2 separate regions of the Homo sapiens genome follow, and region 1 is linked to region 2. The links come from fine-mapping of genetic effects on gene expression. Tissue or cell type: blood mononuclear cells. Region 2 holds a variant in brackets; the other region holds the start of a gene. All regions are shown on one strand. Distances are from middle to middle.

Evidence for each region. PIP is the estimated chance that this variant, and not a neighbour inherited with it, causes the effect.
Region 1: it holds the start of CREB5, and the variant in region 2 is fine-mapped to the expression of CREB5 in blood mononuclear cells (TOPMed, PIP above 0.99). The same link has a PIP of 0.9 or more in monocytes.

What each region holds. Positions count from the first base shown.
Region 1 is chr7:28,407,985-28,416,089 of GRCh38, forward strand. CREB5 (cAMP responsive element binding protein 5) reads left to right here and starts at 4,534. Exons shown (of 11, transcript NM_182898.4): 1 at 4,534-4,933. The coding sequence starts at 4,931. RefSeq lists silencers at 926-1,220, 1,189-1,258 and an enhancer at 4,531-4,620.
Region 2 is chr7:28,680,073-28,688,177 of GRCh38, forward strand. All of the region lies in intron 5 of CREB5 (cAMP responsive element binding protein 5), which reads left to right. Among named protein-coding and RNA genes, the nearest start is that of CREB5, 270 kb to the left of the region's middle. RefSeq lists enhancers at 5,081-5,130, 5,347-5,855 and a silencer at 5,239-5,408. The variant C/T (reference allele first, on the strand shown) is at 4,802.

The DNA of each region.
Region 1 (8,105 bases), 270 kb before region 2:
GTTTCTAAGCAAAGCTCCATCTCCCAGCCAATGTGTTCTTAGCAGAGGTTCCAACCACCAATAACCCACAAGAAGGGAATGCTTACCCCTGGCTCTATGAAGGAGCCCAGTTGGGATCTGGGCTTGAAAACAGGGATTGAGTTGGGCCCAGTGCCACCCCTTGCTCATCAAGTGATCTCAGGCCAGCCCCCAACCTTCTGGTGTCTGCCTTAGCTCACCTGTAGAATGGGAATAATTATAATACCTGTCCTACTTCTGGTACCCGGGTTGGTGTGAGAAACAAGGGAAATCACGTGGTCGCAAGCGCTTTGTAAGGTGTGAGGGGCTGCGAGGTTGGCATTGGTCGTCTAGAATCGGGCTGGATTTAGCCTATGCCTTCTCTTTGAATCCTACTCAAAGGGAGAACTTCTGAAAGGAAATTCAGCAGGGGGATGGTGACAGTGATGGTGACGGCCGGATACTGGAGACGCCAGGCTCCTCTCGCTGCAGACCAGGCGCCCGGATCCTGCAGTCTGGCCCTGGCTCTGCCGCTCCCCAGCCCGTGAGCTTGGGCCAGTTACCGAAGAGGCTCTGGAAGTGACAGCCAAGGGCCCTTTCGGCTCTGACGCCGTGTCTAAATCAGGCTCATCACTTGGCTCTAGCTGTGATTCACCTTTCGCCTTAGGAGCAACTCTCCCTACAGCTTCTCAGACGCATGAAGCAGGGGTCCCGCGAAGGGTGGGGCTGTGTATTTCATGAGAGTGTGCACCATAAGGAAGTTATTCTCCTGGAGGAGGTGAGATGAGGGGGCGGTGAAGAAGGGGTGACAAGTGAGTGCTCTGAAAAGCCAGGATGCAGGGAGCACTGAAATGAGGTCATGACTGTCGCAAGCAAAAAGGAGCTGGACATCCTCCGGTGGGGGAGGGAGGAGCGTCCTGCATTTCTGTTTGCAAAGTCTTTTCCCACATCCTTCAGCATCCCCCTCCCCACCTCTCCCCTACCCCCATCCCTACACCTTTCAAACCCCATCAGGCCCTCCCCGCAGAAGAGCCCACGCCCGCGCCTCCTCCGTGGTCTTGTCTGAAACCATAAGGATTGTTTCCAAGCTGACTCACACCACTAATGTCAGGGAGCCGTGTCACACGGCGCTGGGCTCTGCAAGCTGTTGCTTGCGCAGTCGCCCCCGCCGCTGCCGCTCCCGGGCGGGTGCACCAGGGTCCGCGCGGGCGGGGCGGGGTCGGGGCGGGACCGGGGCGGGGCCTGCCCCCTCGACGCGCCGGCCCCGCCCCTCGCTCCGTCCCTCCCCAGCGGACCGCAATGATTTAGAAGTTCAGGAATCCCACGTGACGTCACCGGGGGGGTGATGTAATGCACTCTAAATAGAATGTATTGTAATCTTTGCTCAGTCCAACGTGGTCCCTTCACCCGGGCTCCGCTCTTGCCTTCTCCACACTTGTTTGGTAAGTTCCTAAAAATACGGCTCGGCCACTTCTGGGGCTTTTGCATTTAGCCACTTTTGTTGCACTTGCCGCAGGAGCCATCTCGGGAGTGTACTTGTTTGCAGGGGTTGGTTCTCGGCAGCAGCCGCGAGGTTACTTGGTCCAGTGGGCAGGTCACAGGGCAAGGAGTAGGGAAGATGCGATGCATTTTTTTCTGGAGGGTGATCTGTGTTTGTAAACATTTTGGCGGACCAGAGGGAAGTCCGGCCCCGAGTGCTGGTAGACTGTGGAATTCGGCTGTGTCCTGAGGCCACCCTAGAGACCCCGCGCCGCGTGAGTGCCGGAGCGCTCGGTGGCCGCCGCGCCGCGCGCCTGGAGGGATGCTAACGTGGAGCCGGCGCCGAGTCCGCCCGGCGTGCGTGCGTGTGTGGGAGCGCGCGAGTCCCCTGACGCGGGGACCAGTTATGAATCGGGGGTGTGTGTTTGCCTCCAGAGACCTGGCAAGGTGCGGAGCCCTCCAGAAGTGCGGTCAAGCGGCAGCGGAGACGGCGAGCCAGGAACCTCCCCCCGCGTCCCCAGCTTCCCAGCGTGGCGGCGGAACCCCCGGAGAAAGTTTGCAAACTTCCAGCGGGCGCGGCGAGGACGCCGGGTCACCTAGGGGGCGGGTGGGCGCGCGCGCAGGGGGCTCGCTCTCCCCGGTGCGGAGCTGCAGCTGCCACCTCTCCCGCCGGGCTGCCGGCTGCAGCGGGTGGGCGCGCGCCCGGGGAGGGGAGGTCGCCCTCGGAGGGCGCTTGGCTTTCGCTCCAGGCGCTCCGGGCTGGAGAGCGGCGAGGCTCCGTCCGCTCCAGTCCACTCCTCCGGCCGCCTCCTGCCTCCGCTGCTTTCTTGCTGGCATCGTTACCTCTTCCCGGCCGCTGCCCCAAATGACAGCTCCGGCTCGAGCTTTGGCGGCGCCCAGGCAATTCCCAAGACCTGGCGGCGGAGTCTCCCCCTGCGGCAGATTCTCGGCAGAATCACTTGAACTTTTCACGAAGTTCTTAGAGGGGCAAGATGCGAAGGAAGGAACCAAGGAGATGTTTTCTCTCAGCAGCTGCATCCCGCTTCTTCTTTGCCATAGATTTATTTTTAAGGGGCGTCTGGTAGATAAAGCCCTAGACCTTGTCCACACTCTCACCCCCATCCCCAACTTTCCCTGGACCGGTGCCGCCCCCACTTGATGCTTGCTCAAGGCCGGGGACTGGAGCGGGCTACTTGTATATTTCGTTGTCAGTCTGCAGAATGTGTTTGATTTTTATTTTTCCCTCCTTCTCTGACATGTGTCAAGGAATAAAGACTGGATACAGGTCCATTACGTCATTCTGCAGGCCAGTAAGTGTTTGATTAACGGCTTGAGCTCCTCAAGGGTTCAGGAGCTTAGAATGCTGACAAAGCAACTCTGCTTTGCATCCCCCTACCCTCCCCACAACACACTCGTGCAATCGCCGGCTCCCTGGGCATCTTTATTGCCCTCTCTTCCCAGCCCCTCCCTCTCCACCACTCCCCCGTCTACACCGTTATCACTCTAGCCCCGCCCCCGCCTTTTTACAGCTTTCCCTGGGGCGAGCACGGTCCCTGGAGTGTGGGTAAAAGCTTCTGGGGTCTGAGGGGACCACTGTACCTGATCAGCGCGCAATCCGCCCTTTTGTATTATTTAAGAAAGGCACCAGTAAGCCTTCTCCTCTAGGGCGAAAATGCTTAGTCCTGATAGAAAAGGCAAATCAGGAAATGTTTGCAAGCGTTATGATAATACTCTGTCCTCGTGGTGGTGACTTAGGAAAGCAATACACCCACTGCAAACAAAGTATTTCACTTTACGTAGTGCCTGCCCTTTAGCAGAAGAGGGATGCTGACAAAATCAGGTTTAGCTGAAAGGATCAAGACTAAACGTTTCATTTCCAAAGTGAGGGAATGTGAGTCGTTGAACCTAAACTTCCATACAATAAATTGCTGCGTGCGTTAGTTTCTAGCTCTTAACCTTAAGTTTCTATGTTGAAAGAGGAAGTCGAATACGTAAGTCATTGAACTGAGTCAGAACCTCCGTATCTGGCAGTTGAAATAAAGACCCTGTGTATGACTTGTTGCAAGGGATCAAAGTAAAAAGAACCCTCGGTGTGGGGGGTGGGGGGGTGGGGGCGTGAGGGAGGTGTGCAGCAGAAATTAAATTTAAAAAAGTATTAACAGAGTTTTGGATAGAGGGAGAGAGGGGATTGGAGTGGTCCCTGATTTGGAGTTGGTGAAAACTAAATAAAGAAAAGTTTATATTGCAAATATGTGGGAATTTCTTGAAGAACACATGTTTTCTTATAATTAGATCTACTTTCTTCAAAGCGAAAGCCATGCTGTAGGGTAGGCATTTGTGAAACTCCTGTCTGGGGTCTAATTGACATCCTTCCCCAAGTCTGTGGCAGGATTTAGTATTTATTCACATCTAGAGATGAAATAGTGTAACCTCCACACAATATATGTGCATCGAAAATGTTGAACTTCTTGTTTGTGATGCATAGACTTAAAGGAAAAAAAATGGCCCAGTCATGGGCACTGGAAAGTGTGATTAATGATCAGTGATTTAGTGATCAGTGATTAGTGGTTTTATTCAAACTGTTACCTCTGACCAGAAGCACACATCAGAGGATTAACAGGCTCTTTAGATAAATGCTCATTAGTGGAAGGGGAAAAGCAAAGATAATAGGCATGCACCCAGGGACAACTTTCGAAGAAAATCATTCCCGTCTTCAGAATAATAAGCTCTATTAACAGAAAGCCCTTTTAATTTAAAACTTGCTTTTATCTTGTAAATCAAAGTTAGATGTAAAAGTTTGTAGTGCCATTATAACCTAAATTTTCCCATATCCACTAGATGTGGATTATCTCAGTAGCGATATTTTTTTTTATTTAAACAAACAATTGGACCTTTAGAGCAGCTGAACCCTGACAAGTTCTTAACTCCCAGGGTTTGAAAGTGTCCCCCCTTCTAGCATGGAGATTGCAGCTTGCTAACTAGATGGCGCACTGTTATTTGGTGTTCTCTGCTGCGTAGCGCAGGAGTATAAACTGAGCATGTAGCTGCTTGCGAGGTGTTCTTCAACATTTACAACAAAGTTGATTCTGTGTAGGGTTGGAGGCTAGACAGTTCCACAAATTTTTAGTCACATTTTCCATGTCAGTTAAATCTAGGGAGTTCAAGACTACTGGAAAAATTAGTCTCATTACTAAAAGAAACTTAGAGAACGAGGGAGGTACCAGAGTCTAGGAGGTACCTCTGGGTTGCAGAAGTAATTGTAAAATACCAGACCTGTTCTTTTTACTAAAAGCTAGTTTCACTATCTTCTGGTCTGAAATACTGAGGCAAATACTCAAGACTTATTTTCTTCCTAATCTTGCTGGTGAAACAGAAGTTACTAGAAAGAAAGGAAGAAAAAACTTGATTTGGTGACTGCAGGAAGCAACACGTTGCTGCTTTTATTCTACAGATAATGGTAAGGATGATGTTTATTATGCATATTAAACAGAGAGAAAACTTTGCACTTAGTTAAATAGAACCAATGTTGTATTTTCATAGATGGAATTCAGAAATGGAGTTTAGATTTTGCACAAAATTTTAATGTTGCTTTTGTCAGTTTCCTGGGACTTATAGCATTTTATGTGGAAGGATGTGTGTGTGTGTGTGTGTGTGTGTGTGTGTGTGAATAAGACTATTATTTCCCAGGTAAAATATGTTCAGAAGCATATGAACTACAGTGGGGAAGCTATGGAGCATGTTAAGTAATGTGTCAAGCATGAATTCCCCTTTCTGTGAGGTTTCATGAATCACTTCAATAAGTATTTAAGTTTTAATAAGAAAGTTCTTGAAAAAGAAACCTAAAAATTAAAAAAAAACAATAAAACAGTTTTCCGCATTCAAACCTAGATGTGTATGCCCCTGAAGGATGATTCTATGGGTTGAATATCAACTATTACTTTAGTTCTAAAACTTAAAAGAAGAAGTATAATAAAACTCACTTGTGTCTCCCCAGAAATGTTTCTCATTTTCCTTTGCTTATAGCATTTTATATGGATCTCTTATTTTTAAATCCTTACTGATTATAGTGGTTTTTATTTTTCAACTTAACTCATAGTAAACATATTTGAAAATATCTCCAAGCCCACTATTTTTAATGTAAATTGCTGGTGCCGATAAATTGCCTGTCAATTAGCGGTCAGTCGTGACCTTATATAGTTGATACCTGAGAAGATAGTTTATTAGAACATTCCAACAAAAAATTGGAAACCATGCCCTTATTTCTAGATCTCTGTTATGTCACAGCTTTTATTTGAATAGGTGGCTAAATGAATGGTAGTTTGTCACAGAGACTTTTCCTGCATAGATTTTCAATTCTAGTAAGTTTAAGATTTTTGTTACAATGATTTGTCAGTTTCCCACACCTGCACATTCAAAACCAATCAATCATGGAGTTTCCATGATGGCAAGTTCCTAGACTCCCAATTTCTTACTATAATCTACTTTTTAGCAATGAGGTATCACAATCCTATAATATTTTCTTGTCATTGGAGTTTACTTCTTACTAAGCTAAAAATTATTTTGTCGGTGTGTAGTGTTCACTAGATCACTAAGATGTGAACTTTGTATTTGTAGTTCATTTTCTTCTGGTTATGTTGTTGGATTAAAATTGGGATTTGAGTGGACTTATTATTTTTGTCATCTTTTCTTTCTTCTCCTTCTCCTTCTCCTTCTTCTTCTTCTAAGCAATGCAGTTAGTCACAAAATTAATGTGATCCTGGCTGGTGTTTCCCATCTATATGCTTCTTTTGCTTCTTACAAATTGGATTTCTACAGCAATTTAAGGTCTTTTTTTTTTTTAGAGGCAGCTTTCTTGGATGAAGATGGAACAGTGATCTCAGTCAATTCATTATCTTGTCCACTTTGACTACCAGCTGTATTATGGGAATCAACCAATGCTTAATTAGTGTTTAAAAATTTAAATCTATGACTATTTCTCTGAATTCTATTTAAGAAAATTATACAATTGAGATAAGGTAATAAACTGGGGGGCAATTGCCTTAAATATCTAAGTGTGAGGAAGAAGCACTTTCAGATATGCTAAACAGACTTAAAGACACAGAAGACCCTTTTTGTGTTGCTATTTGTAAAATAAGTAAGCTATCTATTTTGTGGCAATGCTTTAAATACAAAGTCTGGCACTTTAAAAATGACATCATGTTTAATGTTTTCACTAAAGAATTATTACATTTCGTAATTAGGAAAAAAATGAGCAATTAGTGTTTTTTGAGTATCCATTAGTATTCCATTGTTGAGAATCACAAATCATAGATTTAACATAGGAATTTTTTTTTTTATAAAAAGAGAGAAGCCTTTTAGAAATTTCCAGATAGTGATAGCACTCTTCCAGAAACCCCACTAAAATTTTTGAAGCTCTTATTGAGGACTCTGGGACTGTCACAGTAAAAGATAAAGTTTAGGATAAATTCTTGAACCCATAAAAGATATTATATTGACATTTCAATATTTCTTTTTTCCAAGTTCACTGTATTGCCTTCCCCCTCACCCCCTGAGAAATAGATCAGAATCAGTTTATCACTTTAAAAATATGTATTTCAGCTGCTTTCTTCTATTTCCTTAAGGTTACATTTCTGATCTTAACCCTAAAAAGATTTTAGGATTTCAATCCTTAACAAGGATTGAAAACTACCAGGCTGGCGTTTGACTAGAACTGATTTTAGAGGGAGTTCTTTTAGGCCTAGAGATTCTGATGGTGAGTTACAAAGGCTTATGGCTTTACACGGATGGTAGGGCTAGGGGAGGGCCTCGGATTGATAGACCAATTTTTCATTTTACAGAAGAGACCCCTGGCTCACCCAAGGCCCAGAGCTAGAGAGAGCCAAACCAGGCTGAGAAGCCTGGTCCCTGCCTCCAGGTCGGGTGCTCCTGCCATAAATGCCCTTGTCAGGAATGGGGCATAACCTATGACTTTGTATCCTTCACTCTTTTCAAGCCTTTTGATGACTAATCTTTCAAAGACAAATTTTTATCAGATCTTTGGAATGAACACCTTAATCATAAAAACTGTAGTTTCTATTTCATTCATTCTTATATAATATCTGCAATGTTATTTTTTCTAATAAGGGCCTCCTTAATTAATTTTAACTTAAATTCTCCTTTTTTCATCATTGTTATGAGACATACCCTGTAAAACCACACCATCCAGATTTCATTTGAGAGTAAAAACCAGGCAGGACTAAAAATGGTCTGAAAGACTGTCTCAAGAACAAGGCAGTGACTTTCTCTACTACCTGTCTTTTCTCTATTATCTGTGAGGACGGGATCTGAAATATTATTTAAAGTTAAAATAAATAACCTTTTTTGTCAAATAGAGAAACGGGTGATGTTTTCACTCTAGAAGGTGTACCTTTGCCTAGGATCTGTCTGTAATACATTATCTTTCCAGATGGATATATATGAGTGTGTTTGGAGGTGACGAGAAGTGAATTGAGTCTGGAAGTATGTTCTTTGAGGTTTGACTGGCAAAACTTGACCAATCATAACCAAAAAAATTCATGCATGCAACACAGAGGGCTCTAGAGCACCACACATTTGATTTAAGATGATATTTAGTCTGTGCTGTATTTAAG
Region 2 (8,105 bases):
GCTCAACATTTAAGGGGGCAATTATTCTCAGGGTTGGACAATTGCAGACCTGCACCTGAGAGTGAGTACCTCCTTAAATTTTGCACCCTAGGCACCTCACTTGCTTCAACCTGGACTGGTCCAGTCACCACCCTTGGTCAAAGGGGAAAGTAGGAATTTGGTTGATAATCTCCTTTAACCAAGGTTCCCCACAGAGCCTCCAGGAAAGGCCTCTTTCTTGGACATCATCAGTTGGGTTGTCCACCTCTCCCAAGCATAACTGCTCTGAGCCAGTCTTGATCAGCTACTATGCCTTGTCTTGGCTCCACTCAACACCAGAACATGAATCAGTGTAGTTAGTCTGACAACATCATTAGGCTCCAATCCCGTATAAACTTTTACCCACAAAAGTTTGGACCTCCTTGGCCGAGCACTATGGCTCACACCTGTAATCCCAGCACTTTGGAAGGCCAAGCTGGGAAGATCACTTGGGTCCAAGAGTTCAAGACCAGCCCAGGCAACATAGGGAGACTTTGTCTCTACAAAATGTAAACAAAATTAGCCAAGCATGGTGGTGCACACCTGTAGTTCCAGCTACTCAGAAGGCCGAGGTGGGGGAATCATTTGAGCCCAGGAGGTCAAGGCTACAGTGAACTGAAATCATGCCACTGCACTCCAGCCTAGGCAACAGAACAAGACACTGTATCAACCTATCTCAAAAAAAAAAAAAAAAAATTGGACCTCCTGTTCCCCCACCATTATTTGAGTTCTTCCTGTAGTGCCCACTCTAGTCATAGAGATTGGTTAGAACTGACATCACCTTTCTTTGGACATGATAAAGTCCTGGTGGCAGTGTCTCCTTTTTTAGGGCACCTCAACAACTGTGCAAGAAGTCCCAACAGGAGAATATTTAGCTGCTCTCACCTCAAGTTCCAATTTCCCTGGGTGCCTCATGTAGGAAGCTGGTGACAATAGTCTAGGATCAGCTGCTCTGACATCCACCACAGAGTGCTCATTCTGCCATCCCTGCTGTGGGGGTCCAAAAAAAGGGAGCAAGAGGAATCTGAGGCCCTCCAGGGAGAAAAGGTATAGTGTAGGGATGGAGAAGGCTGACTAGTAGATTTCCTAGGATTTTCTTATTATAGGTTTTCTAGATGCTTCAGATCTTTAGGAAGCTGCATAAAAAGTGTGAGCAATAATACAAACAGGAAAAAGAACTTTCAGGAGGCAACATATTCAGGGAAGACCGAGCAGCCTGTGTTGCCGCTAGTTCAGGCTCAGTTACATTTCTTTTTCTTTAATTAATTTATTACTATTATTATCATTATCATTATTAGAGACAGAATCTTGCTCTGTCTCCCAGCCTGGAGTGCAGTGGTGCGATCATGCCTCACTGTAGTCTTGAACTCCTGGGCTCAAGTGATCCTCCACCTCAGCCCCAGTAGCAGGACTATAGATGTATGCCACCACGCCCAGTCCCAGTCACATTTCTTAGGGACCTACTATGTATGGGCCAGGTGCTAGGTGCTAGGGAAATGAAGATGTATAGCACAGTCTCTGCCCTGGAGAAGCAAATGGCTGCTGAAGAAGACAAGCATGAAGAGATCCTCTCCATAGCTGGCTTATTGCTGGGATACAATCTGCTTCAGGACGCCAAAGGAGCACAGAGTAATGGCCACCCTTATCCCAGTCTGGTAGCCCAGCAAGGAGACCATGGAAAAGATAATGCCTGAGCTGAGGATTGTATTCATTCATTCACTCATTCATTTATTCAACAAATATTCCAGGAGTGTCAACGGTCTTTCAGACATTGGTTTAGGTTTAAGTGGTACAATGACTTGCACATTTTAAGAAGTTAGAGAAAAAACACTATAGGAAGCAGAATTGATGACAATATTTTAGGGCTAATCAAATGGCTCTTGTGACCTCTTAATATCCACCCCCAAAGGTTTCCTGATGCCTCCACCATTATAAATTCATTCCTTTGTTTGAGACACATTCAGCATTGCCACATCCGTGAATTACAAATAGGTTTTGACACAGGAAAGGCCAGTGAATTGCCTAAGGGTACTTAGTGCCAGGGTTGGGGTATAGGAGGTGCAGTAGTTACACGACAGGAGTCACCAAGGGCAGATCACTCCCTTGTCTTCTCTCTGGGAGCACCTGGAGCTGACTTCAGCAGGGCTGACAATTTAAGCCAGTGAATCCTGCCTGCACATGGTTCAGGATGCATGCTGCACCAGGTCACCTAGGCGGCCCCTCATCCTCTGTCCACTGTGAAAACACGGGACACCCAGGTCGAAGGGAATGCTGAATGACACCATGTGGGTGTGCAGTGGTCTGTGACCAGAGGGTTCACTGGAAGCAATTTGCAAAGGAGGACTTAGAAAACCACCTGGATGGTTATTGTAAATTAAAAAAGGAAGAGATGCCACTTTTTTCTGAATAATTTTTAATACTAGGTTTATGGCTGGGTACATGTGATAGTCATTACAGCTTATTTAACTCTGAAATTATCTGGCCCCTCAAACTCCACCGGGACTGTAGAAATCTTGGGTTAAATTTTAAAAACAACATTTGAAAGAAGATGATATACTTTTCCTTGAGGAGAATAAATTCAAACCTAAAAGTGGGGGGGGGGGGAAACCCCAGCTCTCTCTAGGAAGGATCTCCATTGTTTCTCATATTTGCTATGTTTCTCATAACGTGTTTGAGCTCAGAAATTCACCCAGGCACACAAAAGGTCTACTCTAGTTGGCTGTTGAGCCCCTCCATCCCTGCAATCCAAGTTGTGCCTTTTCTATTGGGTTATTTGGAAAGAGTCCAAAAGCATTCTGAACTCTGAGCTCAAATCTCAAAGGTTTCCACTTCTTCGGAGCCGAACATTTCATCAGGGGCTGGGAGTGTGTGAGTGAGTTACACCGAACAGCTGCGCGGTACCCACCACCCTCTCCCCAAGGATGACACGCTCTGCAAAGGAGGGTGTTGTAAGCATTCCTGAGCAAGCCAGCTAATCTGGAGACCTAGCCTGTTGGCCGGGGGCTACTTCTAAGAAGCCTCCCTCTGGAATTACAGCATCTTATGACTTCTATCTACGAAGCCCCCCTTCTTCAGAGGAGCAGCTAGGACATGGGGTAGGGGAGAAGGCCAAATGGGTGAAAAAGGAATCTCTTGAGTCAGAGGGGCATTTCTTTTTGGGAACAGGATCTTGTCTCTCTTTAGCTGCTCACAGGAAGGAAAATGGGAAAGTAGGGCTTCTTTTCAAGTGGGGAGGCACCCAGCAGCCAGTGGAATGCCTGATTTGGAAGGGGCAGGAGGGAATAGTTATGTCCCGAACAACAAGTGCAAATGTAAATATGCAGACCTTTGAACTCTGAAATTGATTTCAATTCAGGCCAGCACTCCAAAGTTGTTTTATTGGGATGTCGAAGTGTTCTGGCACGTTGGTGGCTTAACGGCGTCATCATCAGACCCAGACATTTCTGGGTCCTTGGCATTTGTCTGGGTTTTAGAAACACTGTACCCATTGGCGATGTCACTCCCTGATCAGAGGCACACTGGCCACCTTCAAACCTCTTGTTCTCTTACTCCTCCTGGCAGAAGCAATGATGCTGGCGGGTCTCATCTGAGATCCGTGCCCGGCATTGGCTGAAGCTATCATCTCCTTTGTTACTTCCCAAGCAAGGCACAGGAAAGCCATCTTTACATCACCTCTATTTAAAGCACAGGGTCCCTTTTGCCTATGTCACTGAAAAACAGCAGAAGCCTGGTATCTAGTGGATTCACCCCGGCCCTCTAATGTGGTATAAGGAAAATCCTACAGAGAACATTTTCCCATTGAGCTTACAAAAAGATGTAAATTTGGAAAACTCTACCACATATCCATTTTGCACCAAAAATAGTAACATAAATAAAACATTTAAATAAGAAAACTAAAGTGGGGAGGGGAGATTTGGGGGGTAGGGAAGGGAAAGTGAAAGTCCATAGCTTGATATTAACCAAGATGGTCAATGGCTCATTTAAAAAGGAAAAAGTAGCTTATGCAAAATCTTGCCAACCTGCCTTGAAGTGTAAAGGCTTGTAGAAGTTATTGAAAATTTTGTTTTATTTATTCCCCTTAGCAGAAGAAAAATCAATGTCTGCTTGGCAAGTCAGACGTAAATGAGTTATACAGGCCACTGACATGGTGGACCAAACTTTATAACAACCACATTTGCCGCTGTCAGGCCACAGGCTTCAGTGGCGCCAGCTGTAATTATGGCTGATCACCTCTAATTCAGAGCTGCCTGCCTTGATAAAGGTGTCACTCGGAGCTACTGTGGCATCAGCATCAATTGAGGATGTCAAGCCAAAGGGCAGCTTGCTGGAGAAAGCACTTCCCCACCCCAACCCCCAGGGTCCTGGAGACCCTTGGGCAAATATTGCTTTTTAACTCTTCACCCTGAGTACGGCAACACTCCCTGAAGCTGTGATTTAAATTCCAGGGGATTCAGATGAATATCCCTGACCTCCATCAGTGGACGTCTTTAATAAGCTGAGAGATTTCTCCAAAAACACAGTTTAGAAGTCAAGATCCTCTGTGCTTTGCAACGTGCAGAGACAATGTTTGTCTTATCTACCTGATTCATTGGCCACAAAAGGCATTAGGGGCAATAGACTGTAGCACAAGCCATGGTCATTTTTGGAAAAGGAAAAAAAAATTGCAGCTTCATGCCTTTCTTCTGCTTTTGTGGTATTTAAAAAAAATTCTAGCGAACTTCCCATTTTCATGTTACTTTTTTCTTTTTGAAGGAAACATGAAGTGTGGGGAGAAATAGCAAAA[C/T]GGAGAGATGATGGGGTTAAAAAGCCCTGCTAATAGAGTAGTGTCTGGACTGTTGTCATTGTCGTGGTGGAGCCCTGAGTGGGGAGGTGTGAAGTGAGGGGTAGAATTCAGCCATTAAAAAGGCTTCACTGTCATTTGTGAAGGATCATGCTTGACTGCCCCCACCTCCCCAGGCTGTTTTTCCTCACTCTGTAATTAAAAAAGAGACACACATACTGTCTGTTCTCCTCTTTAAAGTCACAGACGGCCCCACCCACACCAGCACCCCCTCCAGCGAGTTGAGTTGTGGGGGCACAGCCTGTCTTTCATTTTAAGGGAGAACTTGTCTTCCTTCCCTCTCCTTTGGAAGGTTCACCTGAGGGTGGAGTGCTAATCTCAGAAAGGCAAGTTTTGTGTTTTGTGGCTGGGGTCTTTTTCCTTTAGCACCTGACAGGGTGACCCATAGGGGCCAAGGGAGAAGTGACTGTGATTTCACAGCCCTTGGTGGCTCCAGACACGGGCACGTGTTTGGACCAGAAGTGGTTTTGCCCTCGCTGACAGGGAGGTCAGATGCGAGAAGTCTCCGGAGGGCTGGTGGTTGGCATTCAGCAACAGAAAATCCCATCCAGCTCCAGGAAAAAAGGGCCCTGGGCGATGGAAACCCTGTCACCTGGTTCTGAACCAAAGCCCAAGCTGCTAACTGAGGTTAGTTTTTCACACTCAGACCTTCCAACCTGCCATCTTTCACTCCCTGCTTCCCCATCTCTACACGTGTCTTGATGTTATTTCCCTTTCTCCAAACACAGGGCACTCTTTTTTTTTTTTTTTTTTAACCAGTATTTTTTTTTTGTTTCCAGCAGAACCAGCTGACCCCTGCCTGCAGAACTCCGGGTCCCTCTTGGAGCTCTCTGATGGCAGCTGTAGGGCCATCCCCAGCGGCACTGTTTCCCCCTTTGTTTACCCGTTTCTAAGGGCAAGTGCACCACGAAGGCTCTCCGAGCCTGGAACTCAGCCTGGGGCTGTTTTGGTTACATTGAAGTTTTTGCTTCAGTTCTGCCAGATTTAAGTGGTGACTTCACTAGCACTGAGCTAAAAAGGAGAAGGGGGAGGAGGGCGAGACCAGGAGAAAGAGAGCAAGTGAGCGAGAGCCCAGCCGGAGGGAGAGCCAGAGCTAGGCGCAAAAGAAGGGCCAGCACATTACATCATCGCTTGGCCTGGAATCAAATGGGAAGGATATGACTCACTCAAGCTAGTTAAGCTTTGGCTCAAATTCTACACACACTCATTCCAGAGCTCTCATGTTCTGCACCTCAGGAGGGAATTCAGCCTCAGTGATGTCCATGAGGTTTGTTTTTAATTTTATTTTCTTTTCTCCTGATTTTATAGATTTTTTTTGCCCCTACTGCCTTCTGTTTTTGAGCCTTCGTCCTCCTCCTCCTCCTCTTCATTTTCTCCCCCTTCTCCCTTTCTGCCCGTCTTTGTTTCTCCTCTTCTTCCTTCTCCTCTTTCCCCAGCCCCTCCGCTCCTCTTCTTGCCCGAAGAGGCATTTCTTTTCACTTCGATCAGAGTTTTTGTTCTAGCACAGAGACCTGAATGAGTTGAACAGAGGCCGGGTTGGAGGAAAAAAGAAAAAAAAAAAAAAGCAGAGCAAACCAAAGCAACCAGAGCAAAAGGGCCACAAATAAAGAGCGAAGCGAGAAAGAGCAAACTCGGGCGAAGTTTCTTTGCTGCGGTGTCGCTCCTAATCGGAGGAGACAGGGAGAGAGTTAAAATGCAGGAACCAATCGCTTGAATGGTGATGTAATGCAAGAACCGAAGGGTAGTTAAGTAATGTGAGAGCGAGGGGGTCAGGGTTGCAAAGCATTTACCTGCTCTCAAGGGGTTTTCAGTTTATTATCAATTGCAGTGACTGTAACCGGCTTCAGACTGCAATCTCTAATTATTCACAGACGCTCCTTTTTTATCTTTTATTATTAAAAGTAAAACTATATTATGGTATTTTAAAATAACACGATATTATCACAGCTGTGTATTATTTTCTGCCAGGATTCTCTCTCTCTGTTTTTTAAATGGCTTAAAACTGTTGTCTTTTCATAAAAGGTGGAAGTGATGGTGTGGTGGTTGGTTGGGGGGTTGGGGGGGCGATTTTTGAGTGTAACTGGTGAATTGTAAATGACTGGAAAACTGTGTGTTGTATGAAAAGTGAATGATTGTGCTGTTCCATTTATTATTAAGAATATACTGCAGCTTTTAAAAGTAATAGATGATGATCCTCAAAAGTAGTTATAGCCTTTCCCCTATTATTTCAGTGAAGGTTAACAGCAATTGTGCATTTGCTTGAGCATGTTGACATTCTGTTGTTCCACGTGCTAATTAATCCGGTGCTATCTTTAAGACTTTTATGTTCTTGAATTAATTTTTTAGATGATATGCTTCAGTAGTGAGGGGGCGATGATGAAGACTTCTTGATTGAGTTGTCTTAGAAACAGTTAATATTTCAGAGTAAGAAATTAACAGGAAATACAGGGAGAGGGGGCAAAGGATTGTGTTCTTAATGTTTTAAGGATCTCGTGTACTCAGAGAGAGAGACTTTGATGTTTTGAAAATTATTACCACATTTCTGTTTCATAGAATAGATTTCGTATTGTGATATGCTGCCTGAGTTGGGTGCTTTCTGACACCATCCGGCATTACTAGATAGTAATAAACTGAAACCCACTAAAACAAGAGGGCAAACACTTTCTCATTCTGGGAACTTCAAAACTTCTCTTGGGCTTATTTAGACGTGATCATCCTACAGCTGGATGCATATTGAGGCATGCGGCACATACCAGAAAGGTGTCTATTTATTTAACGCATGTTTTGGATATCATTCATTATGACTTTATGGATCTTCTCTCTTTCCTCCTTTTTTGGGCAGAGGTGGAAGTGGGGAGCAGAGGGGAGAAGTAATTTTTGGAGGAAGTAGCATGATGTGTGAGGAGGCCTGAGTGTTGATTCTGATGCTTGACCTTGAGCAAATCACTTAAACCATCTGGGCACTACTCTAAAGAGCAGGAAAGGGCAAGGTGGGCTAGAAGCTCCTCCCCGCATGGGGAACCAATCTTAGATGATCTCTGGAGTCTCTTTCCACTCGAAAGTTCTATGTTTATATCCATGTTCTATACAAAAGTTTGCTACAGAGTATTTAGCATAGCTTTTCAGAGAAAAGTACATTTGAAATTCAGGATGAATTAGTACTTGAAATGAATGGGGGAGGATGGACAGGAGTATATCTTTCCCCACTTTGAAGTTTGATCTTTATTTGTTTACTTCTTGCTTTTTG